Linked DNA regions of Homo sapiens. The protein of the gene in region 7 purifies or fractionates together with the protein of the main gene of each other region. This does not show direct contact. Each region holds a gene or a part of one and is shown on either strand. Other genes may lie near its edges.

Region 1 (4,040 bases), on a different chromosome or scaffold from region 7:
AGAGGGAGAAAAGATCAAACAAGATGGGTCACAGGTCAATACTTGTTAAATGTGATGGGTGTGTGGGGGGTCATGATCCTATTCTCTCTACTTTTCTAAGTACTTGAAATTTTCCATAATAAAGCATAAAAAATGCAGAGGGCTGGGCCCAACCTCCACCCACAGAACCAGAATCCCTGGAGGATGAGGCTCAGGAATAAAGGGGATTTCAAAAGTGCACCAAATAAATGTGAGGTCCTGCCAGGCTTGGGGACATGGACCTAACCCTCAGAGAGGAAGTGAGAGATCCAGGGAGGAGGCGACTGAGGCACTGGGGTGAGGCATGTGGGGCACATGTGAGTGGAACCCATGCACCTGGGGCCTGGTCCCCACGTGTGCCCCGGCCTGCTGCATAGGTTTGGAGGACTGCACGTGGCTCTGCATGCGATTCGGCACATGCTCACGTCACCTGTCTTGAGACAGTGCAGAGAGCACTCAGCTCAGAGTCACAGACCTGGGTTCTGTGGGCCTCAGGCCCCTCATCAGGACAGCCACAGCCACAGGCTCAGAGTCTCAGGGCCCCCTCACTTTGACACAGCCTGACTCTGTCCCCAGAGACCACAGCCTTGCTGTGACACAGGCTTCTCCCTGCTGAAGGGCCCATCATGGAAATGGGAAGTCCCTCCTGTCTAGCTGTGCTGGGAGCAGGCAGGAGCCAACCAGGAAACCTCCACCACAAACTGCATCACACATATACCCCCAGCCCCTCCACACACACACACACACACCCAGGCCCTCTACACACACACACCCACACCCTCACAGCCCCTCCACACACACCCACACCCTCACAGCCCCTCCACACACACACACACACACCCAGCCCCTCTACACACACCCAACCCCTACACACACACCCAGCCCTTCCACATATACACCCAGCCCCTCCACACAACTATACACACACTGCACCACAGCCCAATCCCTCCACACAACACACACATATATACAAAGCCCTCCACACAACATACTACACACACACACCCCCAACCCCTCCACACACTACACACACACCATACACACATCCAGCCCCCCTACAATGCACTACACACACCACACACGCAATACGCATACACACACACACCACAGCCCAGCCCCTCCACACAATACTTATACACTGCACCACATGCACACACCACATAGCCTGGCCCTTCCACATAGTGCACTGCACACACCACACACACAGCACCACAGCCCACCACCCCCCACACACACCCCACACCACAACCCCCACCCCGCCCCAGCCCTGGCCCTCACCCAGCACGCGGGCGATGAGGCAGAAGAGCAGGGTGCTGATGACGAAGGTCCAGTTCCAGTGGTGGGAGCCGGCCACCGTGGAGACGCCGAGGAAGATGAAGATGAGGGTCTCGCTGACGCTGCTCCACATCTTCAGGAAGTATTTGATGGTGGTGTGGGACTTGTGGGAGATGTTGGCCTCCACATAGGGGCGCATCACCACTCCTGAGGCTATGAGCCTGGAGCAGGAAAGAGCGGGGTCAGGGCTCCGTGTCGAGCTGCACCTGCTCGAGCCCCTCCACTGCCAGGGGCAATGGGGCCACGACCAAGGTGCCCATGTCCCAAGCTCCTCTATGGGCCAGGGGCCCGCTGTGTGCTTTACACCCTCTTGCCACTCATCCTCACATCAACCCTATAGACACGGTGTATTCCTCCATTTTTTTTTTTTTTTTTTTTTTTGAGACGAGTCTCACTCTGTCACCCAGGCTGGAGAGCAGTGGCGCGATCTTGGCTCACTGCAACCTCCGCCTCCCGGGTTCAAGCAATTCTCTGCCTCAGCCTCCCGAGTGGCTGGGAATACAGGTGCCCGCCACCACGCCTGGCTAATTTTTTTGTATTTTTAGTAGAGACGGGGTTTCACCATCTTGGCCAGGCTGGTCTTGAACTCCTGACCTTGTAATCCACCCGCCTTGGCCTCCCAAAGTGCTGGGATTACAGGCGACGAGCGCATGCCCGGCCCTATTCCTCCATTTTTAAAATGAGTGATCTTGGCTGGGCACGGTGGCTCACGCCTGTAATCCCAGCACTTTGGGAGGCCGACAAAGGCGGATCACTTGAGGCCAGGTATTCGAGACCAGCTTGGCCAATGTAGTGAAATGCAGTCTCTTCTAAAAATACAAAAATTAGCCAGGTGTGGTGGTGGGCACCTGTAATCCCACCTAATTGAGAGGTTGAAGTGGGAGAATCTCGAACTCAGAGGCTGCAATGAGCTGAGATCGTGCCACTGCATTCCAGCCTGGGTGACAAGAGTGGGACCCCGTCTCAAATAAAAAAATGAGAGATCTGACTCTAAGAGAAATAGTCACCTCTCCCCTGTCACGCTGCCTGCAGGCAGCAAAGCCAAGACACACAAACCACAGTGTCCAACTCCAAAGCCTGCACCTTTGCCCCAAGGCCACACTGCCTCTTGACCCAATAGGAGTCAATGACACAGACCCATGGTCTCCTGGGTTCATTCCCCTCAAGCGTGGCATCTGCCATTACACAGGGGTCTCCACAGGGAGCTTTGTTCCAAGCAGCTGCTTGGAGCTCGGAGTCCTCCCAGCCCAGTGCTCACACCCGGGCTCTGCTCCTGGGAGCCAGGGGCTCTGAACCCCAGTTCTGCCTTGCTCGGCACTGGAACACCTTCACCCCTCACTGCCTCCCCACATCCCATTCTCCCCATTTCCAGACCCGGTGGAGACCTCAGGACCGCCAGGACTCAGGCCTGGTGAGCCTCCTACTGGGGCTGCTGAGGGGACTCCCTTTGAGACAATGAAGTAGCAGGGCTGTGGCTTTCCTCAACCTGAAGCTTAGTGGCTTCCAAGGCTCTGCTCTCCTATACCCTGGGCTTGCCTTCATGCAGGTCATTCTTGCTTCATCTGCTCATAGCCTGAAATGCCCTCTCCCGATTCCTGGACCCCAGGGGGCGCTGCAGAAGTGCTCCTCTTCTAGGAAGCCACTGATGCCCTTGGCCATTTAAATGGCTACCAAGCAGGTCTGGAGCCTGGAGTTCATGTCTCATCCCTGGAGCTCAAGGCTGGGCCCTGGGAGCTCCGTGAACCTACGAGCCTGGGGAATCCAAGCTGGCAGCCCCCGCCCCCACCCCGCCAAGCCCACTGCCTGCTGCACGCAGACTCACGCCATGATGCCTGACAGGTGGAAGAGCTCGGCTGACAAGTAGGCCATGTAGCTGTAGAGGAAGACGAAGAGCGGCTCGATGACCCGGATGTGGGAGGTAAATCGGGAGGTGAAGGCTGCGATGACCCCGTAGACCACGCCCACAAGCACCCCGCCCAGGGCCACCACGAAGAAGCTCAGGAAGCCGAGGAAGATGTCCACGATGCCCACGTGTTCGTAGTTGGCAAACTCCTCAAAGAGGTGATACAGGACCTGGGGAGGGTGTGCAGGCTGGTGGGTGGGAGGAGAGGGCCCTGGCCCCACGGTTCCCTGGGGTCCACCCAGGGCAATCCTGTCCCCTCCGTTAACCATGGCCACAAGAAGAGGCCACACGGTAGCAGAGAAACCCTAGTGCCAAGCAGGTGCTCAAAACCTCAGCCTGGGGCTGAGGGGCTTGCTCTGGGCCAGCCACGTGCCCCACTGGTGAAGGGTGGGCCCTGGGAAGCTCTGTGAAGACCCTGAAGCCAAACTGCCTGGACTGGAATCCTGGCTCTGCCACTCCTGAGTTGTGTACAGGAAGCAAATTCATCTCCCTGTGTTTCAGTTTTCCTGTCTATAAAATGAGGATAATAATACCAAATCTTAGGACTGCTGTGAGGACTAAATCAGCGAATCAAGTGCTCGGAGCCTTACCTGATGCAGTGTTAGCCACATCTGGTGCTATCAAGTCTGCCTCTCACTGCCTGACCTTGGGCACGTCATGCCCATCACTGGGTTTCAGTCCCTCCTTCAGCACAAAAAAGGGACGTTCACACAATGAACTAGAATGTCATTTCTTAACCTCTGGAGCTTTCTGAAAATACACATGTTCAGGCCATACTGGACTT
Region 2 (4,040 bases), on a different chromosome or scaffold from region 7:
TCCAGTGGTTTTCCAAACACTGGATCACTTCTAAATGAGGTAACCCACATCAAGCTCAAATAACACAGTGGTGGACCTCAAAAACTGTTAGCCAGTGTCATCAGGCCTCATTGCCCTATGAGTTTGTAAAATAGTAAGTATTACTATTTGTATCAGGAAAAAAAAAAAAAGCAAGCTTATCAGTTACAGGGGAAAAAATATGTAACCTCTTTGTATTTTTCCTAGTAGAATCACACTTGAAATTTCCTTTGTTGGTTCTCTCCCCTACCCAGTTCCTCAATGTTTCTCTCATGAAAAGAACACCCCAAGTGGCAAAATATCTACACTGGTGAAAAAACTATAAACTATATCTAGAGCAGAGAAGAACAAGAAGGAGAAAAAAATAAAACTTTCATGTGGAAAGAAGAAAAGAACACGGTGCTGTTAATAAGAAAGGATAAGCCCAGTGCTTACAATCTTAAGAAACATTAAGAGACAGAGAGGCAGACACACAAGCAAGAAGTGTTTTTGCTTTGTTTTTTTTTGTGTTTTTTCTGATGGAGTCTCGCTCCGTTGCCCAGGCTGGAGTGCAGTGGCACGATCTCAGCTCACTGCAAGCTCCGCCTCCCGGGTTCATGCCATTCTCCTGCCTCAGCCTCCTGAGTAGCTGGGACTACAGGCGCCCGCCACCATGCCCGGCTAATTTTTTGTATTTTTAGTAGAGACGGGGTTTCGCCGTATAAGCCAGGATGGTCTCGATCTCATGACCTCATGATCTGCCCGCCTCGGCCTCCCAAAGAGCTGGGATTACAGGAGTGACCCACCGCGCCCGGCCGCTTTGTTTTTTTAAAGCAAATCTTTTGGATTTCCTAGCTTAAAGGGTACTAACTGTGTGGCAAAAGTAAACCCAATACTCTTATCTGATCTTTCCCCAATCAGGCCACTGTTGGCTTCAAAACACTATGTTACATACAACTTTAGTGAAAGTATATTTAAACAGTTTTCTGAAAAACAAACTCTATAAAAAAAACTAAAAGGGTACAGTTAATGTGTGACCCAAATGACAATATTAGCTACCGAAAGGAAAATACTGAACTATGATAAAATGATTGAAGTAGACTTGACCTTTTCAATCAAGTTGGATTCCTTATTTACAAGTTGTGTGAGTTTCTGCAGATTTGCATCTACCGTTTCTTGTCCAGCTGGAGAGATGCCTAAGAAGCCAGGACAGAAATCAGAGAAAGACAGGAAATTTTTAAAGCCTTTAAAGCTATTTAGATTGAAAGAATTTTGAGTCTACCCACCCTGTCCAGTGCCCCACCCTCCCCAAAAAAGGCAAAGAGGAAAACCATTCTGGGTTTAAAGGCGAAGAGAGGGATTCGAATGCTCTAAAACTAAACCCTGAGCAAAACGGACAAAAATTTATCCACTAAGTAGACACTGCTAACCAAGTGTTCTGCAATTGGCCACAATAATTAGTTTTTTTTTTTTTTTGAAAAAAAAAGCACAGTAGTCCTCATTTCCTTCTCAAGTTTAAGCTATTCCTTTCTCACACCCATTTCAAATAGGTCTTTGGTCACAACTATCTGGATAGTTTTCTAAGGCAGTAACTCCCAAAAAGTTGCCCACCAGACATCCAAAGTATTCAGAAGAACTTAAAAATACAAATTCCTAGGATTGATGCCTAAAAGATTCTAATTTAGTAAGTCTGGAATAGGACCCAAGATTTTTTATCTGTCAAATAATCAGGTTTGCTAACCACTGCTCCCAAGTTAACACGGTTGAACATTACTTAATTTCATGACTCCCAAACTACTAACCCCTTCCTGTATACAGAATACATAACCCACCAAAAAATAATAAACTGTCCACCTAAGCCAGCTATCTTTATAACCTGTTTCTTAAAAGGACAATTTCAGCCAACCATCCCAATAGAAATTTAGTATCTGAATCACTTAAGCACAAGGCTCCACTCTCTCAATGAAGCACATCCTAAGTAACAGGTGCCCTCTATTTACTATACTTCCATTCTGATGCAATCAGTTTTCAAGTAGTGGAATCATGGCAGTGTACCTCACCAAAATCAATCTGCTGCTGATTTCTGTTCATGCAGGAAAATGCTAGAAGCAGCAGGTAAAAATCATTTAAAGTAATTGTCCATTTGCATTAGGATAAATACTGTTTTTCAGCAAAGACTTAATACCTGTGGTTTTAACCTTTTAGAAGAAAATGACCCACTTCAAAGGGGTAATATTTAAAGAACAAGAAGAAGAAACGTAAAAATCCAGCGGAATAGATAAAAGGCAAATATCTATTTATCTATTTAAATAAGAACTAACATGAGAATAAAAATGAAGTCGGAAAAACACAAATCCTTGAAGTGCTATAAACCACTATTTAAAGACAATACACAAACTTCTAAAATTAAAATAAGTAGTGGATTTTGCTTATACATACATAGGAGAATATGCAAACAAACATTAGCTGAAAAAGAGCCAGCTTACCTCCAAGACTAAGCCTAAAATAACTGCTCAGGATGTCATCACAAAAGCGACAGAGGTTGGAGAGCTGTTTCAGATGTTCTTGTAGCTGAACTTTAGGAAACCGTACTTTGTAAAGAGGTGCAAGAAAACCAAAAACATAGGCATCCAAGGTAGAAGGCCTAGAAATAAATTAAGGATTTTTAAAGCACATAAGACAATATTAACTGAAGGCCGGGTGTGGTGGCTCATGCCTGTAATCCCAGTACTTTGGGAGATCAAGCGGGGGCAGATCACTTGAGGTCAGGAGTTCCAGATAAGCCTGGCCAACATGGTGAAACCCTGTCTCTACTAAAAATACAAAAGAAGTCGGGCGTGGTGGTGGGCACCTGTAAACCCAGCTACTTGGGAGGTTGAGGCAGGAGAATTGCTTGAACCCAGGAGGCGGAGGTTGCAATGAGCCAAGATCATGCCACTGCACTCTAGCCTGGGCAACAAGAGCAAGACTCCATCTCAAAAAAAAAAAAAAAAAAAAATTAAATTAAGGATTTTTTTAAGCACATAAGAAAATACTAACTTGGGATGGTGTTTAATTTTTTTTTCAAAATTCTCAATTCTGAATTACACAGTATAGTCTCTTAAAAGGTTTACTATCCATTTCAGTTTACAAAAATTATGCAACCAAGGTTTTACTCATTGAGTAGCTTAGACTCTAGGAGAAAATGAAATTGTCTTTATAGATTCATTTTTACTCACAAATGTTAGACTGGAGGCAGAGTGGGAACAGTCTGAGATGTTTTAAATTCACATATGCAGCCTATTAAGTCAATGTTAGATTATCACTGGTAGAAAAAGTTTCCTATAATAAAAGCCCATTAAATTTTTTTCTTGTTTGTTTTGGTTTTTTGACATGGAGTTTCACTCTTGTCACCCAGGCTGGAGTGCAGTGGCGTGATCTCAGCTCACTGCAACCTCCACCTCCCAGGTTCAAGCGATTCTCCTGCCTCAGCCTCCCAAGTAGCTGGGATTACAGGTGCCCACCACCACACGCAGCTAATTTTTTGTATTTTTAGTAGAGATGGGGTTTCGCCATGTTGGGCAGGTTGGTCTTGAACTTCTGGCCTCGGGTGATCTGCCCAACTCGGCCTCCCAAAGTGCTGTGATTACAGGTATGAGCCACCACACCGGCCTAAATCTTGTTTTTTTTAAGTAAAAAACTCATCTTTTGGGGAGATAAGAGGACTTGCTTTAAATAGCTGCTCACTGAATATATGTGCACAAAATACCAAAATGATTTTTAAGGGAATACTCACGTATCTCCAAAGAAAAACTGAGATGTTCCCAATCTGTTTGATAGAAGATTTAGGCACTCCTTGGCATCTCTGTATATCTAATAAGGATGAAATTATATCTCAAAAGTAGAAAAGATACTCTAAAACTACTTTTGAGGAAGGCATCTCTAGGTAAACTCAAGTCTGCATTTTATCTTGTCCTTTCTCTCTAGGGCCCTTGCTTGAAGAATAATCCATACTATACCTGTGCTTCCACTTCTCGGAGGTGGTAGAGGGGAGGCTGTCCTCT
Region 3 (4,040 bases), on a different chromosome or scaffold from region 7:
TAATTTTAAAATATAAGTGAAAGTATTTTACATATTACTAGCTTGAAATGGTTACAATAAATGCAAATCTATTTCCTTTCAAGGAAAAGCAATTGTTAAATATGACAGCTTTTAGCTTTATTAACTCCTTATTTTGAAAGTATACAAAAATTGGTTTTTTTAGAAAACATTTTCCCCACATAATATTTGCTCTTCTAGAAATGTGTTTCAATAATGATCGTTTTACTTTGCCTATTCAGTGCCAAAAGCAATTATTATTATTATTAATTTTAAGAGACAGGATCTCACTATGTTGTCCAGGCTGCATTTGAACTCCTGGGCTCAAGCAATCCTCTCACCTCAGCCTCCTGAGTAGATGATACCATTGCCTTCTTTCTAATGAGGCCTGATTTTCTTCCTACTCCTCCAGCCTTGTCTTGACTTTGGAAGCTTTATCATGTATACCAGGGTAATCCCCTTCCCTTGCTGGTTTAGGAATGGGCACAGGATGCCATTCTGACCAGTGGAAATTGAGGGCTTCTGAGAAGCTTTCCTTGCTTCTCAAAGAAAAAAACAGTTCTTTCTAAAGGTGGTAGAAAATTTTTTTTTAAATAGTTCTTTTTCTTCTCTTGAGCACTGTCGTGTTTCAATGTAATACTGATACGTGAAACTGCCATCTTTTAACCCTGAGGGGAGGGGGGACCTGTGCCAATATGCTGATATGTCAGCTGTCCTTGATGATGTCAAAGAACCACTGACTTAACTAACCTTGTCAGGGACTTGTTTTCAGGGGAAATAAAATTTCCCCGTTTAAAAAAACAATTAAAAATTTTTTTCTAAGCCATTTTGAGCTAGGTTTTTGTTACTCACAGTCAAAAGCATCCTACCTGATACAAGTTAATTCATTTAACTTTTTTTTTTTTTTTGAGAAGGAGTCTCGCTCTGTCGCCCAGGCTGGAGTGCAGTGGCACGATCTCGGCTCACTGTAAGCTCCACCTCCTGGGTTCACGCCATTCTCCTTCCTCAGCCTCCCGAGTAGCTGGGACTACAGGCCCCCGCTACCATGTCTGGCTATTTTTTTTGTATTTTTTTAGTAGAGACGGGGTTTCACCATGTTAGCCAGGATGGTCTCGATCTCCTGACTTCGTGATCTGTCCGCCTCGGCCTCCCAAAGTGCTGGGATTACAGGCGTGAGCCACCGCACCCGGCCCATTTGATTCACTTTTTAAATGCAGTTGAAAATTTAGTTTGAAAAAAAAAAAAGACTGGAATTAATTTTATTTCTCTTTTCCTTGGAGGCTTTGGTGTCCAAGAGTTTAATGTAGTTCGAAAAGTAAAATATAGTATTTTCTTTGTTAATAAAGTAACAATTAAAATTTAGGGAAGGAATGAAAACCTCTTTAGGGCTCGAGTTCTTAACCTAAAGTCCATTATTATAGATGAGTACATATTAGCTATGTGGGGGAAAAGCTTACAACTTTCATCAGATTCCCAAAGGATTCTGGAACCCTAAAAACGTTAACAAATGTTTTATAATAAATAAGGTGGCACTACGTAGAAAAACTACAGTGGTCAAGCAACACCCATTAGTTAGTTAAGTATGCCAATTTATGACGGATAAATTGGTTTTGTTTATAAGGTTGACGATAGCAATAAATTTATCTGAAATCAGAGGATACTTTAAAAGCCTAGATCTTTTACAACTGTAAATTACTTCATGCAAATTTAACTAACTGGTAACTCTGAAGTCACTAAAGACATACATCTCTGTAATTTACTTGAGAGGTAGGCTCCTAATGGAGCAATACTTGTTAAACAGTTTTGGCTCCCCAAACATTTTGGCATAAGCAATCCTGGAAGGGAGAGGGGAAGAGAAGGAGAAAAGAAAAGAAGGAAGAAGAGAGCTAGATTAAAACTGTAACAGAATTAATGAGAGGAATGGCTGCTTTTGATGAGATATCAAAGGGGTAATATCCTTCCTTTTATTATAAAAACAACTAATTTCAGAACATATACATTATCATATTATAAACATTAAAAACAAACAAAGCAGATGGTGAACAATATTAATGATAGACCAGTTTTCAATAGATTTGACAACAAAACTTGTGTGCATGAACCATTTGCAAATGATTTTGGTTCAGCTTCATCATGAAACCACAGACAAACCAAAAATCATTTAACACACTGAAATAACTTTTAAAAAAGCAAATGAAAAATCGAATATTCAAAAATATTCTGATTATTGCCTCTCTGTAGAGCCCATCTTTTCTGTTATACAACTTACCCTGACAATCAGGATCCATTTAATTAGAGAGAGACCAAATCCTGAAATGGCCCCATACCTTCCTGCAGCTGAAGTGGTCAGGCAAAAAGACAGGAAAAACCCAATCCAGTTAAAGAGGAATGCCACTGCAAAAGCAGAGGAGGGGAAAGATGTTAGACATGTCCTGTTACCCAAGAACAAGAGTGCCTTACACCTGCCTCTGTTTAAATGACTTTCCAAAGGATAAAAGACAGCCTGTCCTCCACAACCGTCACCATACCTCCTCTAAAACATCCATTCTTCTGTCTTTCCCCAAAAAGCAAACAAGAAAAACTCCTCCCTATCAGGTTTTACACACTTATGTCTACTGCTAGTCACTTTCAAAAACGCCTTAATAGGCTGAGCACAATAGCTCACATCTGTAATCCTAGCACTTTGGGAGGCCAACGTTGGAGGATCCCGAGCCCAGCAGTTTGAGACCAGCCTGAGCACCACAGTGAGACCCATCTCTACAAAAACTGAAAAAAACAAAACAAACAAACAAACAAACAAAAGCCGGGCACAGTGGTGCACACCTGCAAGTCCCAGCTACTTGGGAGGCTGAGGTGGGGGGATCACTTGAGCCCAGGAAGTCAAGGGTACACTGAGAAGTGATCACACCACTGCACTCCAAATTCAGCCTGGGCAACAGAGCAAGACCTTGTCTCAAAAGGAAAAAGCAAAAAAAACAAAAAACAGCAAAAAGCAAACCTTAACATTCACCAAACTGTATACTTACAACCTCTGCTTTTTTTTTTTTTTTTTTTTTTGAGACTGAGTCTCACTCTGTCACCCAGGCTGGAGTGCAGTAGCACGACCTTGGCTCACTGCAATCTCTGCCTCCCAGGTTCAAGTGATTCTCCTGCCTCAGCCTCCCGAGTGGCTGGGACTATAGGCGTGCACCGCCAGGCCCGGCTAACGGCTAATTTTTGTTTTTAGTAGAGATGGGGTTTCTCCATGTTGGCCAGGTTGGTCTTGAACCTCTAGCCCCAGGTGATTCGCCCACCTCAGCCTTCCAAAGTGCTGGGATTACAGGCATGAGCCACTGTGCCCAGCCTTTGACCTCTTTTTTTTTTTTTTTTTTTGAGACGAAGTCTCACTCTTGTCCCCCAGGCTAGAGTGCAATGGTGCGATCTCACCTCACGGCAACCTCTGCCTCCCGGGTTCAATCGATTCTCCTGCCTCAGCCTCCTGAGTAGCTGGGATTACAGGTGCCTGCCACCACACCCAGCTAATTTTTGTATTTTTAGTAGAGATGGGGTTTCACCATGGTGGCCAGGCTGGTCTCGAACTCCTGACCTCAGGGCATCTGCCTGCCTCGGCCTCCCAAAGTGCTGGGATTATAGGCATGAGCCACCATGCCCAGCCTGACCTCTGCTTTTTACTGTGTGTGTTATATATATATAGTCCAGTAAATAAAATAAATGCCTTCAACATTAAATAAGTGCCCCCAAATAATCTGATTCAAGTCACTCATCCTCCTGTTCTCTGAATTTTGACAACTTATATAACATCACCTCTAAAAGCATTGCATTTTCTTATCTTTCTAATACAACAAATAAAGGAAATGGTTGCTCACTTCTATGTGAGGCACACAAAAAGATAAATGGCAAGTAACATGAAGGGAGAAAATCAGGCTGACTTTGATCTGTCAGAAAAAAGAAGCTTTCAGAGCAAAATTCATCAAAGGCATTTAATTCCTATTCTACAGATTAAGTATGAGTAGAAGCAACGCAAAAGGGCCCCGTAGACCTGG
Region 4 (4,040 bases), on a different chromosome or scaffold from region 7:
AAGCGGAGATTGCAGTGAGTCAAGGTCGCACCACTGTGCTCCAGCCTGGGCGACAAGAGTAAGACTCCGGCAAAAAAAAAAAAAAAGAAATTGCGTGTTACTAGGATCAAAGTAATTATAAACCGACATTTTTGGTGTAATACATAAAAATATAAAATCAAATAAATTACATAAAAAATCCTACTATCATAAATTTGAATTTGGAATATTATGAATTATTTATATTCCCCTTTCTAGAGGATCTGTCTATCTTATCTCTCCTAAAACTTAGACTGTAGTCTCTACAGTTCTAACTGGAAGAAACCAAAGCTTTCTGAAGAAACACCCAACTTCGGTATAGGCTAAAAATGGACTTTGGGAAGGTGGGCAAAAAGCAATGAAGCTATCTGTCGAAGACTGCTGGGATCAAAATAAAGGATACAGGAGCCAGTTTGGAACCCATAGTCCAAAGCTGGAAAAGTTTGCATATCAAAAATAATAACTAGATATTAAATAATATTAATTATCCCTCTTAAATTATTAAGAGGGATAATGATATTACGGTCATTAATGTTCATTTATATGACTGTCAGAGCCTTCTGGGCTGATGAACTCGTCTCAAAATCTTCCTCCTCTCAAAAACATTTCTCCATACATGCTTTACATCTTTTTGTCTGGCTGCTGTATACTGGGTACCCACTTACTGACAGCCACTGTAATAGGTGCTTTTTAAATATTACCCTCAATCACTGCAACAGCACTTCAGAGATAAGAAAAAGAGATGTTATGTGATTGTCTGCCCAAGACCTTATAGCTACTAGATGTCAGAGCCAAGCATTTTTTTCCTTTTCTTTGAGACACAGTCTTGCTCTGTTGCACAGGCTAGTCTTGAACTCCTGGACTCAAGAGGTTCTCCCACCTTGACCTCCCAAAGTGATGGGATTACAGGCATGAGCCATCCCGCCCAGCCTCAGAGCCAAGATTTGAATCTAAGTCTGTCCAGCAGCAAAGCCTGCCCTGTTCCCTATACTATGCGATAATCCCTTTTCCAAAAAATCATGACCACTTGTTTAAAAACCCCGCTTTCAATTCTAAACGCCTATAAGATAAATCTCTTTTACGACCCAATACAAGCTGGACTCAGTCTACCTTTCGAATCACCCTCTGTCCGTTTATCTACAACACAGCTCTGTCTCGAATCAGCTCGCACACATGCACTGCTGTACATTCTGGGCTTTCTACTCCATTCCGCTGGCCTATATTGATCACTCAATGATCTGTATTTTCTATTAGCTTAAAGACAATTCTAATGTCTGACAGATAGAAGGTGATCAGTAAACCTTTGCTAATCAATTACTTTATTTAAAAAATTTTCTTTAAAAATTCTTTTGTACAGACAAGGTTTCACTATATTGCCCAGGCTGGTTTTGAACTCCTGGGCTCAAGCAATCCTCCCGCTTTGGCCTTCCAAAGTGCTGGGATTACATGGCTAAGCTACCATGTCTGGCCCTAGTCAATGAATGAACGCTGGGAATTCATGTCCCCCACATTAAAAGAGCTGTACTTGTACCTGTGAGATGCCTCGAGTGGAGCTGTAGGAACTGGTAATGGCATTGCGGCTGGAGCTAGGGATGCCACTTGCGTAAGCGCCTGTCAAGGAGCTCATGGAAGAGCTTCGGGATCTCTTATTCAAGTGGTCATCTGAGCTCTGAGAATTGAGGCCTCTCTTCAGAGACCCAGGCCTAATAAAAGAGAAGACAGTTAGATGCTTTATTGAAGGCAAAATTCTTTTACGATTTCATCCACGGTCATGACATCTTTCTTAATAACATGAAGGGAAGAGAATAATGCTTTTAATTTTTACTGCTAACAATCTGGCCAAATCTATCTGACAAAGTCAGTAAGAAAAGCCAAATATTTAAAACTTAAATGTATGATTTCCATTTATAGAATATTCTGGAAAATGCATACCTATCTACAGTGACAGAAGACAGATCAGTGGATGCCTGGGAACAGGGGTGGAAGTAAAGAGAGGGATTACAGGCATGTGGGAACTTTTGGAGGTGAAGGATGTTCATTATCTTAGTGGTGGGATGGTTCCACAGGTGTATGTGTGTCAAAATGTCACATGCTTTAAACAAGTACGGTCTATTTTATGTCAATTATATCTCAACAAAGCTATTAAAAAAAAATCAGAGTTAAGAGGAACCCATCATTTTACTAAACCTCCAATGGAAACAGAAATCTCCTACGCATCTTTTCTGTAGGACAGTCATCCAACCTGTTACAATATAGACAACTCTCTCCTAGAGTGACCCACGTCAACCATGAACCAGTTTATTCTTACAGTGGATTACAGTGTATTTCCTCTTTCACCCACGGATCCTATTTGAAGTCAAACAGAGCAAGTTATTTTGCTTCTTTCAAGGGACAGTCCTTTGGTTTTTTGGAGACCATTGTCCTTCCCTCACTTATTTCTTTATTCCCCCTGAGACTTTTCTCCTCTGGGCTAATACTTCCATACCTCCAAAACCCCAACATCCACCACCACCCCTTTGGGCTGTTGCAAATCTCCTTAACATCTTCATTGCTTCACTGGGAATGAATTTCCGTTTGTGTACATCCTCCCTCGCAGTGCAGTACACTGATCTGACCACAGTGCTCCACGGACAGTGAGCAGAACTACGGAAGGCAGGAATACCATCCACCTGCCTCATTCTAGTCTTTCTTCTAACAGCACAGACCAGGAGCACTTTAGCTTTCCTGGCGGCCACATCACACTGCTGACTCAGATGAGGTACCTAAGGTATCCTAAGTCTTTCCACACATACTTTTGAGCCACTTTCCTTTCCACCCAATTCTTCCTCCAATTTGTTTTTAAACTGACATGTAGAAATTTAACATTTAGGTTTCATACTGTTTTATCCACTGCACAAACTTTGCAATCCTTCTGTGTATGTGCTTGGTTATTAAATATATTTATAAAACCTCTTAAGTCTCAGCATATTTCATCCATATTAATGCAAGAACATTAAAAGGAATTAGACAGAAGGCAGTTAACTGTGGCAAGTTACTCAAAACGTTCCTAATTTCAAAGACGTGAACCTGAACCAATTAAGCAATGCAAAAAACAAAGAGGAAAATCTATAGGGCAACAGCTCTGATCAGGCCTTTTTCCAAACAGTTGGTATTTCATCCGGATGGACTCCCACTTACTTAGGCACAAAAGAAGCGGGGACTCCATTGGCCACCAGGGGCTCAAATGCTGAATGTCCACTGCCACTGCTATCATGGCGCCTGCGACAAATCAAAAAAGTCTCAATGAAATGACATGACTTTTTTTGTCCCTTTAAAGTGTATTCTCATATTTCTGGGACCTTATACTATCTCTATGGAGCACAGATTCCATGATAGACCAGAAAATGGTTGTTTAAAATCCCTAAGCTTCTGAAAGGTAAATTTTTTTTTTTTCAGACAGAGTTTCGCTCTTGTTGCCCAGGCTGGAGTGCAATAGCACGATCTTGGCTCACTGCAACAAACCTCTGCCTCCTGGGTTCAAGCGATTCTCCTGCCTCAGCCTCCAGAGTAGCTGGGACTACAGGTATGCACCACCACACCTGGCTAATTTCTTAATTTTTTGTAGAGGCGAGGTCTCACTATGTTGCCCAGGCTGGTCTTGAGCAACTGGGCTCCAGCGATCCTCCCATCTTGGCCTGTCAAAGTGTTAGGAGTACAAGCGTGCAGCACCACACCCAGCCTTATAAAATGGTGTTTCCCTCAAGAGTCCCATGAGAGCAGGGATTTTGTCTTGTCCACCGCTCTATCCATAGCACTTGGAGTAGGGTCCCATACACAGTGGGTGCTCAATAAATGCTCAGCCACTTCAACTTCCTTTCTTTCTATACTTAGAAAACTATTTATTTATTCCATTTTCATTAGCTTATTCTATAAACCACATAAGGATTTTTTTTTTTTGGAGACAGTCTCGCTTTGTCACCCAGGCTGGAGTATGGTGGCAGTCTCAGCTCACTGCAACCTCCGCCTCCTGGGTTCAAGCAATT
Region 5 (4,040 bases), on a different chromosome or scaffold from region 7:
GTACCCACCAAGTATGTTTTCATGGCGCATTAGCACAGTTTGGTAGATTTCTGTTTCTCGAAACCAGCTGGCTTCTTCAGTGGTAAAGAATACTTTCACCGCCACTTTTTCGCCACGCCATTTGCCCATCCATACTTCTCCATATCGGCCTTTACCAACTTGCCGGACCATCTGAATCTGTTTGGCAATAGTTCGCTGAACCTTTATAGAAAAAAGTAAAAGGTTTGAGCTCTTGATGAAAGAAACCCATTAAGACTGGCAAAGGGGTAGTCCATCTCATCAAAAAGCATGGTGTACCCAACCAACTCCAGTTAAAAACTTATAATGTACTTTTTTTTTTTTGAGATGGAGTCTCGCTCTGTCACCCAGGATGGAGTGCAGTGGCGCGATCTCGGCTCACTGCAACCTTCACCTTTTAGATTCAAGTGATTCTCCTGCCTCAGCCTCCCAAGTAGCTGGGATTACAGACACCCGCCACCATGCCCAGCTAATTTTTTTGTATTTTTAGTAGAGATGGGGTTTAGCCACGTTGACCAGGCTGGTCTTGAACTCCTGACCTCAGGTGATCCACCCCACCCCCGGCCTCCCATAATGCTGGGATTACAGGCGTGAGCCACCATGCCCGGCCATAATGTACTTTAAAGTATGAAACAATGTACAATGTATTCTGAAATCATAAACAGGTTATTCAAGTGGCTGGCTGTTTGCAAAAATGGTCATAATAATTACCCTCCCAGTGCACACAGTCGTGGGTAGTCTTGGTCCACAGACTCAGGGCTTAGGCCACATGACTTGCTTTGGATAAAAGAACAACAGCGAACGTGATGCAAGCAAAGACCTGACAAATGTTTGTGGACTGGGGCTTGCCCCCTTCCTGCTGCTTTGGGAACCCTGTGACCAAAAAATAATGGCAGCATGAACTGTCGGCCAAGGGTGTGAACTACACCACCTAGCTCTAGCTAAGCAAGTCCAACAAATGAACTGCCCCACAGACTCACAGAATGAGAAATAATGTTTGTTGCTTCACATCACTAAGTTTTGGGGTGGTTTATTATGCAGCAAAGTCCAAATAACAGTTAAAGATCTTAAAAATCCCATCTATAAGACCCTGCCTGATCTGGCCTGGTCCCATTATTTGCTTTGACCACCCACCCACAAACCTCGTTTGACTTATCTCAACTTTTAGAATTCACTCAAGCTTATTCCTGTCGCTGGGTTTTTTTGAATATCCAGTTCCCTTTACTTAGAGTGCTATTTTCTCACTTAAACACCTTCATAGCACACAAAACCTCTCAGTTGCTGCGCTTAACACAATCATAACTTTATTCTTATTTACATATATATTTGCTTGAATTCCATCCCCTGCTCACAGAATATAAGTATTTATTTGGGACAATATCAGAAGTACTTTAATATTTGTTAAATAAAAGATGTACATGGATTGTTATCTTTCATTTTCAGAAGCATTAGTGATCATTCTAAATTAAAAAGAACATTATGCTCCAAGTTGGAAATGCTTCTAAAATGGACTAGATTTAGTGCAAAGCTAAAGTGACTTTATGTATCATTTATTATAGAATCCTTTTGTAAATTTTGTTCTGTTTTTTTGAGACAGAGTCTCGCTCCGTTGCTCAGGCTGGAGTGCGGCGGCCAATCTCAGCTCACTGCAACTTCTGCCTCCCCAGTTAAAACAATTTCCTGCCTCAGCCTCCCGAGCAGCTGGGATTACAGGCATCTGCCACCACGTCCAGCTAATTTTTGTATTTTTAGTAGAGACAGGGTTTCACCATGTTGGCCAGACTGGTCTCGAACACCTGACCTCAAGTGATCTGCCTGCCTCAGCCTGTAAGTTTTTAAGTCAAGATTATTGAGGTATAATTTATATAAAATGTACCCTTTTTGAGAAAAGTTCAACAAGCCTTGGACAAATCTATATCATGTAATCACCAATACCACAATTAAGATACAGAATATTTTAATAACGTAAAAAAATTCTCACTTTTTGGCCAGGCGTGGTGGCTCACGCCTGTAATCCCAACACTTTGGGAGGCCGAGGCGGGTGGATCACCTGAGGTCAGGAGTTCAAGACCAGCCTGGCCAACATGGTGAAACCCTGTCTCTACTTAAAAAAAAATACAAAAATTAGCTGGGCATGGTGGTGCATGCCTTAATCCCAGCTACTTGGGAGGCTGAGGCAGGAGAATCACTTTTGTGTAGCCTTTTGTGTCTGGCTTCTTTCATGTAGCATAAAGTACTTTTGAAATTCACCCACTGTTGCTGCTACATGTGTTAGAAGTTGTTCCTTTTTACTGATGAGTAATATTCCACTGTATGAATGTACCAGCATTTGTTTATTCATTTAGCAATTCATGAGCTTTGGGGTTGTTTCCAGTTTATGTCTATTATAAATAAAACTGCTATAAACATTCACATTCAGGCCTCTGGTGTGGACAAGTTTTCATATCTCTTGGGTAAATAATTAGCAGAAGGATTGCTTCATTGTACGGAAAGTATGCCCTTAACTTTCCAGGCAATTGTCAAACTATTTTTCAAAATAGCCATACCATTTTGCATTCCAACCAGCAATGTATGAGATTTCTAGTTGATCTACATCTTTGGCACCACTTAATATTATCAGTCTTAGCTATACTAGTGGATGTGCAGTAGTATCTTACTGTGTTTAATTTGTATATCCCTGCTGATGCTGAGCATCTTTTCATGTGCTTGTTTGCCATTCTTATATCTTCTTTGGGGAAGTGTCTGTTCAAATCTTTTGTCCATTTTTTAAAAAAATTGGGTTATCTTATTATTGAGTTGCAAAAGGTCTTTATATATTTTGCACAAAAACCCTGTATCAGATCTGTTTTGCCAATCTGTGACTTGTCTTCTCATTTTCTTGTCTTCTAAATAGCAGAAGTTTTAAATTTTGATAAAGCCTGATTTATCATTAAAAAAATGATTTGTGTTTTTTATGTACTGAAGAAGTCTGCCCAAGGTCAGAATAATTTTTTCAGACATTTTCTTTTAGAGGTTTTATACTTCAACTTTTACATTTAGGTCTATGCTACATTTCAAGTTAATTTGGTATAGAGTGAGGAGGTAAGGACTGAGATTAACTTCTTGGTAAATGGATTCCTGATATTTCCTGCACCATCTGTTAAATGGACTGCCTTTTTCCAATTGAATTACTTGGGCATCTTTTTGTTTTTTTTTTTTTAATCAATTAACCATATTAAGTGCATGTTCCTTTCTAAACTCCATAATCTGTTCCATTCATCAATACATCTATCCTTATGCCAGTACCAAATTGAGATCATTATTGAGTTTTACGGTAAGTCCAGAAATCAGGTAGTGATTCCTCTTTGTTCTTCTACTTCAAAATTGTTTTGGCTCTTCTAGTCCTTTGCATTTCCATATAAATGTTAGAATATACATCAATTGCTATAAAAGTTTGCTCTGATTTTCATTTGGATTCGAATGAAATTACACACCAATTTGAGGAAAACTGAAATCTTAATACTGAGTCCTCAGATTTATAAACATCTCCACTTATTTAGGGCTTTATTAATTTCTTTCAGCAATGTTTTATAATTTTCAGTGTGCAGGTCTTGCATAAATTGTTAGGCTTATTCTAAATATTTCATGGTTTTTGATGCTATTTTAAATACTGTTTTTATAATTACCTAATTGTTTGTTGCTAGAGCCTATAAATTCAATGGTATTTGTACAATGACTCTGTATTCTGCAACCTGATAAAGTCATTTACTGGCTGCAGTAGTTTTATTGTACCATTCTTGGGATTTTCTACGTAAACAATCATGTTGTCTGCCTATGAAGGCAGTTTTACTTTTACCTTTCCAATTCAATTAGAGTTATTTAATAAGATGAATTTCAAAATTAGAGATCAGGGTGGGTGCGGTGGTTCACACCTGTAATCCCAGCACTTTAGGAGCCAAGGTGGAAGGATCAGTTGAGGCCAGGAGTTTGAGACCAGCCTGGCCAACATGGAGAAACCTCATCCCTCAAAAAAAAAAAAAAAA
Region 6 (4,040 bases), on a different chromosome or scaffold from region 7:
TATTTTTAGTAGAGATGGGGTTTCTCCATGTTGGCCAGGCTGGTCTCAAACTCCTGACCTCAGGTGATCCGCCCACCTTGGCCTCCCAAAGTGCTGAGATTACAGGTGTGAGCCACCTCGCCCGGCCTCTGGGGGGCCTTTTATCTCATACTTTGCACATGATATTAACTCGATTGCTCTCAAAGACAGTGCACTTAGGTCGGGTGTGGTTGCTCACGCCTGTAATCCCAGCACTTTGGGAGGTGGAGACAGGTAGATTGCTTGAGCCCAGGAATTGGAGACCACCGTGGGCAACATGGCGAAACTCCGTCTCTACAAAAAACACAAAATATTAGCTGGGCGCTGTGGTGTGCGCCTATAGTCGCAGCCACTGGGGAGGCTGAGGTGCTTGAGCCCAGAAGGCAGAGGTTGCAGTGAGCGATGATTGCAACACTGCACTCCAGCGACAGAGCTAAGACTCTGTCTCAAAAAAAAAAAAAAAAAAAAAAAAAAAAGAGGCAGCACACAGACTCCAAGGTTCTAAGCCCAGCTCATTCCCTAACTCGTTCCATGGGCTTGCACAAGAAGTCACTCAACCTCCTCGGGCCTCAGTTTCCATATAAATAAAACGGGAAAAGTAAGATAACTGTGAAGATGAAATGACAGCACAGTGCCAGGCACACAGTTCAAGCTTAATGACTGTGTTCCCCAGAGCAGCACCCCCAAGAGCTCCCCTGCACTCACTGGGGTCACAGTCATTGATGTCCTGATCGCAGGAAGGGCCAGTGTACCCTCCATGGCAGGTGCAGCTGAAACTCCCTGCCAGGTTGGTGCAGATACCATGAGGGCCACAGGGTGCGGGGCCAGCACACTCGTCCACATCCTGCTGGCATCGTGGGCCTGGGGGTAGGGAGCAAGGTTACACCTAGGGTTACAGGGTACAGAGCAGGGTCTCAGGGACCTGGGGCTCAGGAAGAACCTGCAGGCCGAGATGGGTGAAGGCAAAATAAGCCGTGCTGTCATTCGTGTCTGGGCATTTTGCATATGCAGTTTCAGAATGGCCGTCTCCCTGTCTCAGTAGGTGGCAAATACCTACTATGAGGTCTGCTCCTCCAGGAAGCTGTACCCTAAACCCCGCCCTAAGTCCCAGCATCTCTAGCCCCATAACTCTTCCTCTTCCAAGGGCTGACCCACACAGGCTGCATATCAGTGTCCAGCTCTGTCCTTCCAAGAAGGAAGCCCCTCTCAAAGGCAGGGCTGGGGATGGGTCCCTCTCTGGATCCCCAGCATCATCCCTGATAGGGTAGGGGGCAGAGGAGATGGAGAGGAGGAGGGAAGAGAAGCAGGTGGCATACCTTGCCAGCCCTGGGGGCAGGAGCAGACAGGCAGCTGGCCAGGGGCAGACTCGCAGCGGCCCCCATGCTCACAGGGGTTCGGGGTGCAGGGGGAGAGGAGTTCACACTGACGTCCTGTTGGGGGTGGAAGAGAGGGAAGCAGAGATAGCCTTGAGGGACTCCCTGATCCCATCTCCCCCCACCTCCCCCAACCCCAGGGTCCCCACCTTGATACCCACCTCCCAAGCTCCTGGAGGGAAATGATTGAAAGCAAAAAAGAAGCTAACATAGCGGGAGGAGAGAGTAGAGGAGAAGAGAGATGAGAAGGCCCATGGTGTTGGTGGGGCTGCAGAGGGAAGGTGAGGTACACACCCTGGACACCAGGCGGGCAGGTGCAGTGGAAACCCATTCCATCGCTGCTGCATGTCCCACCGGCCCTGCACGGCTGGGACTCACAGGCGTCTCGGGCCAGGCTCTGGCTGCAGCGGGGGCCACTCCAGCCAGGCTCACACACACAGCGGAACCTGGCAGGGGAAGGTAGTCAGGCCAGGGAGGTGGGCCAGGGAGAGGGGGCAGTGTCTGAGGCTGAGAAGGGCCCTCACCCGCCAGGTGCATCATAGCAGATGCCGTGACTGCAGGGCTCATGGGCACAGGGATGGCTCGGGGGGAGGCAGAGTGGGGGCAAGGAGCCAGGCGGGCAGAGGCAGCGGAAGCCATTTTCCCCATCCACACAGGAACCTCCCTCGCCGCATGGGCTGGAAGCACACTCATTGATCTCCACGTTACAAAGGGGCCCTGGGGAGTACACAAGCAATCTCATCTCAGAACAAAGTCAGCAGGGACAACCAGGGAGGGACGACGTGACCCCACTTAGCACACCCACACCCCCGAGCAATGACCTCTTTTTCATAACGCATCAGCTCTTGTGCAGATTAGGACACCCGCCTCCTCAACCAAGAGCTGACTTGCCCCAGATCATTCTGGTCCCCAAACTTCCATGAAGTCCCTTTCTTTTTCTTTTCTTCTTCTTCTTATTTTTTGAGATGGGGTCTCACTCTGTCGCCCGGGCTGGACTGCAGTGGCATGATCATAGCTCACCACAGCCTCCACTTCCTGGGCTCAAGCGATTCTCCCACCTCAGCCTCCCGAGTGGCTGGGACTACAGTTGCGCACCACCACGTCTGGCTAATTGTGTGTGCATGTGTGTGCGTGTTTATCTACGTATTGACTAATCTGGCTTTGGGAGTGTGTTTATTTTTTGTAGAGACAGGGTTTCATTATGTTGCCCAGGCTAGTCTCGAACTCCTGGGCTCAAGTGATCCTCATGTCTCAGCCTCCCAAAGTGCTGGGGGATTACAGACATGAGCCAACACACCTAGCAAAGTCACATTCATTTCCACTAAGGATTAGTTTAGACCCATTCAGAAATAACCTAGTCACTGAGTTTGGACACTTTCATCTATGTTCCAGAATAATCTTTTTGTTTGTTTTTGTATGTGTGTGTGTGTGTGTGTGTGTGTGTGTGTGTGTGTGTGTTTGAAATGAAGTCTCACTCTGTCGCCCAGACTGGAGTACAGTGGCACAATCTTGGCTCACTGCCGCCTCCGCCTCCTGAGGTCAAGCAATTCTCCTGCCTCAGCCTCCCGAGTAGCTAGGACTACAGGCGCCCACCACCACACCCGACTAATTTTTGTATTTTTAGTAGAGATGGGGCTTCGCAACGTTGGCCACGCTGGTCTCGAACTCCTGACCTCAAGTGATCCACTTGCCTTGGCCTCCCAGAGCGCTGGGATTACAGGCGTGAGCCACCGCGCCCAGCCTGCAGAATAATCTCGAAACAACCTTATGCCAATGAGACAGCACAGACTCAGGGCAAAGCACGGACAACCTCGTTGGACAAGAGTCTGCAAAGATACGGGCAAAACAGGCCCACAGAGACGAGTGACTTCACCCTCGATCTAAGGACCCCCTCTCATGGCAGCCACTTGCCCACCTGTGAAGCCAGGTTGGCAGACACAGTCGTAGCGGTTGATGCCATCACGGCAGACTCCAAAGGTGCAGGGGTTGCTGGCACAGTCGTCAATGTTCACTTCGCAGTTCACACCTAGGGGCCAGGAACATGGCATGGAGTGGCCACCACTGTGCCCCACTAGATGCACCATTCCCAAACCCTCTGTGCCCCTCCAGGTGTGCTGTTTCTGCCCCAGCCCCCGGTCCCACCTGTGGTCCCAGAAGGGCAGCGGCAGAGGTACTTGTCCACCAGGTCTAGGCATTTGCCGCCATGGCGGCAGGGCTGGCTGCGGCATTCGTCCACCTGGCTCTCGCAGCGTGTGCCCGTGTAGCCAGGAGCACAGGCACATGAGAAGCTGGCGATGCCATCCACGCAGCGACCATGGTGGCATGGGTCAGGGGAGCAGTCGTCCACGTTGCGATCACACAGCGTGCCCTCAAAGCCTGTGGGGCCAAGAGGGTCAGGCTCCGCCCACTTGCCAGGGGCCTGCCCACAAGTGAGGCCTCGGACCAATCCTGGTTCAGCTCTATCTGAGGCCCTGCCCATCAAGCTGTCAGGAGGCGAGCTCAATACAGGCCCCACCCCCCACCCCCCACTTACTTCCACTCCACCCCACTACAAGCTCCAGAATTTGTCCCTAGCCAAGACTCTCCCACAGTTAAATCCCGCCCCCAGCTGTGGCCCCACCTCCAGCCCTGTTTCTGCCCCACCCTCCA
Region 7 (4,040 bases):
CAAGTCTTACCTTAAAAAAAGACTTGCCTAGCAACACTGTTCACATGGTTTAAGAATGAGTAATATTAGTCATTATCTGACTGTCATATGCACGCCAGTAGGCTCCAAACCATTAGCCTGTACTAAAGACAGAAGTAAAGCACTGGCCAGGCACAGTGGCTCACACCTGTAATCCCAGCACTTTGGGAGGCTGAGACAGGTGGAGCACCTGAGGTCACGAGTTCAAGACCAGCCTGGCCAACATGGTGAAACCCCGTCTCCACTGAAAATTAAAAAAATCAGCTGGATGTGGTGGTGGGCTTCTATAATCCCAGCTACTTGGGAGGCTGAGGCAGGAGAATCACTTGAACCCAGGAGGTCGAGGTTGCAGTGAGCCAAGATCGTGCCACTGCACTCCAGCCAGCCTGGGTGACAAGAGCGAAACTCCGTCACAAAAACAAACGAAAAGAAGTAAAGCACTATACAATCCTATTTAAATCTAACAGATGTTATAATGATCTCTAGCTACTCAGGAGACTGAAGTGTGAGAACACCCTGAGCCCAGGAATACAAGGCCAGCCTGGGCAACACAGCAAGACCCCATCCCTGAAAAACAAAAAAGGTAAAAAAAAAAAAAAAAAACCCATAAAAGATATTATAATGATCTGTAGTTGATATCTAGGAATAGCTTAGTTACTTCTGCTTGTTTTGCTTTATTTTGCTTGTTATGTACGAAATCACAGATGCTCCTCAACTTACAATGAGGTTATGTACCTATAAACCCATCAAAAAGTCAAATAACTGAAGGTTGAACCATGAAGTCAGGGACTGTTTGTACTTATAAACTGGAAATTCTATCATACCCCAAAATGATTAATCTTTAAAAATCAGACACAAGGCCAGACGCGGCAGCTCACGCCTGTAATCCCAGCACTTTGGGAGGCTGAGGTCCGTGGATCACCTGAGGTTGGGAGTTCAAGACCAGACTGACCAACACGGTGAAACCACGTATCTACTAAAAATACAAAAATTAGCTGGGCGTGGTGATGCACATGTGTAATCCCAGCTACTCGGGAGGCTGAAGCAGGAGAATCGCTCAAACCCGGGAGGTAGTGGTTGCAGTCACCCAAGTTCGCACCACTGCACTCCAACCTGAGTGACAGGGCGAGACTCTGTCTCAAAAAAAAAAAAAAAAAAAAAATTAGAAACAAATTGAGGTCCCTTCAAAACTAAAACTTTTTTTGTTTTTGAACTTTTTTTTTTTTTTTTTGAGACAGCATCGCACTCTGTCGCCCAGGCTGGAGTACAGTGGCACGATCTTGGCTCACTGCAACCTCCGCCTACCAGGCTCAAGTGATTCTCCTGCCTCAGCCTCCGAAGTAGCTGGGATTACAGGCGCCTGCCACTGCACCTGGTTAGTTTTTCTAGTTTTTAGTAGAGATGAGGTTTCACCAACTTGGCCAGGCTGGTCTTGAACTCCTGACCTCATGATCCACCCACCTCGGCCTCCCAAAGTGCTGGGATTACAAGCATGAGCCACCGCGCCCGGCCCCAAACTACAATTCTATGGTGACTATGTATCTTTTCATTTTAAATTCTGCTTTCAATTTTGATCATGTGGTCACACAAACTAAAATATACATGAAATTACTGTCTATCACAATTTAAGTTGGTCTACATTCCAAGTCAAAAAGGAAAGAGACTGGTTTTTCTTACAAATGATCCATAAAGGACACAACGAAAATATCTAAGTTTCTGTTTTTAAAATGATTCTAATTTCACTCATCTCTGAGCTTTGCTTCTACCACATAAAGAATGAGTGTTAAGAGCATCATGGGAGACTTTTTAGTTTATCACAAAGAACTGTTTACAATGGAAATCTGGCATACAAACTTCTCTTCACCGGCACATAGCAGTTCAGTATAGTCTAAGTAAGAACAATATTTTCTTAAAGTTGTCTGTTTCGTTCCTGATTATTCCAAGAATTAATTAGCAAGATTAAAAATACTTAGCTCCATCTAACAAAATACACATATAATCCCTCAATCTAAAATAAGGTAAAAAATTAAAATATTGGCGAGGTGCGGTGATCATGTCTGTAATCCCAGCACTTTGGGAGGCTGAGGCAGGCGGACCACCTGAGGTCAGGAGTTGGAGACCAGCCTGACCAACATGGAGAAACCCCGTCTCTACTAAAAATACAAAATCAGCCGGGCTTGGTGGTGCACGCCTGTAATCCCAGTTACTTGGGAGGCTGAAGCAGGAGAATTGCTTGAACCCGGGAGGTAGAGGTTGTGGTGAGCCAAGATCATGCCATTGCACTCCAGCCTGGGCAACAAGAGCAAAACTGTCTCAAAAAAATAAATAAATAATAAAAATATTTAGCTAACTCTACTTTGGGTCAGCAACTTACTACTTCAGTGAGGTTTAAGAGCAAGTCACAACCCATTACTCAAAACTGAAATCATTTCAGTGGGCCACAACAAATGTTAAGAAAAAAAAAAAGAGAGAATTTGAAAATATGGGTGCATAGCACATAGTAAGCATTAAGTGGCTTCATGACACTATTCCAGTTATCTTTCTCTCTACATACATACATGTGTGTCCTGTATTTCATCCAGTGGGTCACAGTATAAAGAATAAAAGTCACTGCCTATGTAGTCACAGACCATCAGGCCAAATGAGTCTAGATACCAAAACTGTACTGTCCTGCCAGTTACAAGTTACCAATCTTTTGTTGTTGCTAAATTAAACTTGTAGCGCCATAATTTAATCCATGCCTTGCCTTAGTCCCAAACATGAAAGTCATCAACATTTCAACCTTTATATTCTCACAAATTATTTTTCCTCTTAGCTGCATGAATTTCTTCTTCCAAGTGCACTTAGAGCAGGTGGTAAACATCCCAACTCTTCTCATTCAAGCAGATTCATGGAAGTTTAGTACTTAGAAACAATAGTATCTCCATTTGGGAGAGAAAAATGAGAATATCCAGCAAACCAGTCCTAAATGACTGATTACTGAAGATCAGATATAACTAATGACTTCAGTAGTTGAGGTCAGTATTAATTCCAGCATTTTTAGCATAGACAGGAGAAAGGGAAGGAGATGATCATATTATCAGTGGATCCTGTGAAGACTAAAGAGGAAAGGTCTGTAGTGATTTAGAATCTGAGCAGGTCTCTTTGGTTGAAAAACTATCTAGGTTAACTCAGCGTACACTAGCCTGCAGCCTTCTGAAATGGGCGCAGGCCAGCCACCTTCTAGGAGATTTCAGCCCTGTAAAGCAAAAAGGGGTAAATTGGGCATTTAATGCAAGTTTTGTAAACAACTTTAAATTCACATTTAAATATTTTGATAGGTACTTACACGGTGCTCCAGTATACATGATGGAAAAGAGGTTTATTCCAACTGTGCAGGCATAGAAAACTGGCAAAGCTCGCAAACCATTAGGAACTGGATCTGCCTGTAAAACATCATTAAGATCAATATCTTAAAAGGTATAAAGGTTAACCCATTTCCACAGAATCTTTTAACAGGGTAGGTTTGGGAATTATAGTGCCAATAACTCTCTCCAGAGTAGTTTCCAAGGACAACAGAGTTTTTCCTGCATTTGCATCTGGAATTCTTCCTACGAAGGCTAATTCCAACTTCTACCTGTTTTTTTTTCTTTTTTCTTTTAATAACAAGACTAACTGTACCAGTGACTGATAACATCCTGAATAAAGATTGCAATACCCACATTCTAAGGTACCCAAAAGCCCTAATATAAACTTCAGCACACACCTGAGGATAGGCTATACTCTACGTTTGTAAGAGATGTCAAGAAATAGACTATGTTAGGATGTTGCTTACCTGACTTCATATCTTCAAAGACTAAAAATACAACATGCAGACTATGCGTACGCCAACCATCTTATCTAAACATCTGACAAAGATGCCACAATTAATGCTTTACCGAAGTTCAATGATAATAACTGATTGTGCACAAGGTCATCCACTCACTCAAAAGACTGTGTGCCAAGTGCTATTCTGGGCACCGAAATATAGGAGGGAATAAGAC

Evidence for each region.
Region 1: the proteins of SLC20A1 (region 7) and SLC9A1 purify together in Homo sapiens (affinity purification with mass spectrometry; one large-scale study listed by BioGRID and IntAct). This does not show direct contact.
Region 2: the proteins of SLC20A1 (region 7) and MTX3 purify together in Homo sapiens (affinity purification with mass spectrometry; one large-scale study listed by BioGRID and IntAct). This does not show direct contact.
Region 3: the proteins of SLC20A1 (region 7) and NDFIP1 purify together in Homo sapiens (affinity purification with mass spectrometry; 2 studies listed by BioGRID and IntAct, with this or other methods). This does not show direct contact.
Region 4: the proteins of SLC20A1 (region 7) and POM121 purify together in Homo sapiens (affinity purification with mass spectrometry; one large-scale study listed by BioGRID and IntAct). This does not show direct contact.
Region 5: the proteins of SLC20A1 (region 7) and BMPR1A purify together in Homo sapiens (affinity purification with mass spectrometry; 2 studies listed by BioGRID and IntAct, with this or other methods). This does not show direct contact.
Region 6: the proteins of SLC20A1 (region 7) and NOTCH3 purify together in Homo sapiens (affinity purification with mass spectrometry; 2 studies listed by BioGRID and IntAct, with this or other methods). This does not show direct contact.

The regions. Positions count from the first base shown.
Region 1 is NC_000001.11:27,106,352-27,110,391, forward strand, and holds part of SLC9A1 (sodium/hydrogen exchanger 1), read right to left. Parts: intron 3,427-4,040; coding exon 3,176-3,426; intron 1,515-3,175; coding exon 1,297-1,514; intron 1-1,296. UniProt on the Homo sapiens protein: Electroneutral Na(+) /H(+) antiporter that extrudes Na(+) in exchange for external protons driven by the inward sodium ion chemical gradient, protecting cells from acidification that occurs from metabolism.
Region 2 is NC_000005.10:79,984,467-79,988,506, forward strand, and holds part of MTX3 (metaxin-3), read right to left. Parts: coding exon 3,996-4,040; intron 3,850-3,995; coding exon 3,773-3,849; intron 2,642-3,772; coding exon 2,484-2,641; intron 1,194-2,483; coding exon 1,105-1,193; intron 1-1,104.
Region 3 is NC_000005.10:142,136,085-142,140,124, reverse strand, and holds part of NDFIP1 (NEDD4 family-interacting protein 1), read right to left. Parts: intron 2,392-4,040; coding exon 2,267-2,391; intron 1-2,266. UniProt on the Homo sapiens protein: Activates HECT domain-containing E3 ubiquitin-protein ligases, including NEDD4 and ITCH, and consequently modulates the stability of their targets. As a result, controls many cellular processes.
Region 4 is NC_000007.14:72,927,621-72,931,660, reverse strand, and holds part of POM121 (nuclear envelope pore membrane protein POM 121), read right to left. Parts: intron 3,277-4,040; coding exon 3,196-3,276; intron 1,722-3,195; coding exon 1,550-1,721; intron 1-1,549. UniProt on the Homo sapiens protein: Essential component of the nuclear pore complex (NPC). The repeat-containing domain may be involved in anchoring components of the pore complex to the pore membrane. When overexpressed in cells induces the formation of cytoplasmic annulate lamellae (AL).
Region 5 is NC_000010.11:86,913,295-86,917,334, reverse strand, and holds part of BMPR1A (bone morphogenetic protein receptor type-1A isoform 3 precursor), read right to left. Parts: intron 202-4,040; coding exon 9-201; intron 1-8. UniProt on the Homo sapiens protein: On ligand binding, forms a receptor complex consisting of two type II and two type I transmembrane serine/threonine kinases.
Region 6 is NC_000019.10:15,183,572-15,187,611, forward strand, and holds part of NOTCH3 (neurogenic locus notch homolog protein 3 precursor), read right to left. Parts: intron 3,768-4,040; coding exon 3,534-3,767; intron 3,418-3,533; coding exon 3,307-3,417; intron 2,109-3,306; coding exon 1,916-2,108; intron 1,838-1,915; coding exon 1,686-1,837; intron 1,449-1,685; coding exon 1,335-1,448; intron 880-1,334; coding exon 724-879; intron 1-723. UniProt on the Homo sapiens protein: Functions as a receptor for membrane-bound ligands Jagged1, Jagged2 and Delta1 to regulate cell-fate determination.
Region 7 is NC_000002.12:112,652,105-112,656,144, reverse strand, and holds part of SLC20A1 (sodium-dependent phosphate transporter 1), read right to left. Parts: intron 3,444-4,040; coding exon 3,347-3,443; intron 1-3,346. UniProt on the Homo sapiens protein: Sodium-phosphate symporter which preferentially transports the monovalent form of phosphate with a stoichiometry of two sodium ions per phosphate ion. May play a role in extracellular matrix and cartilage calcification as well as in vascular calcification.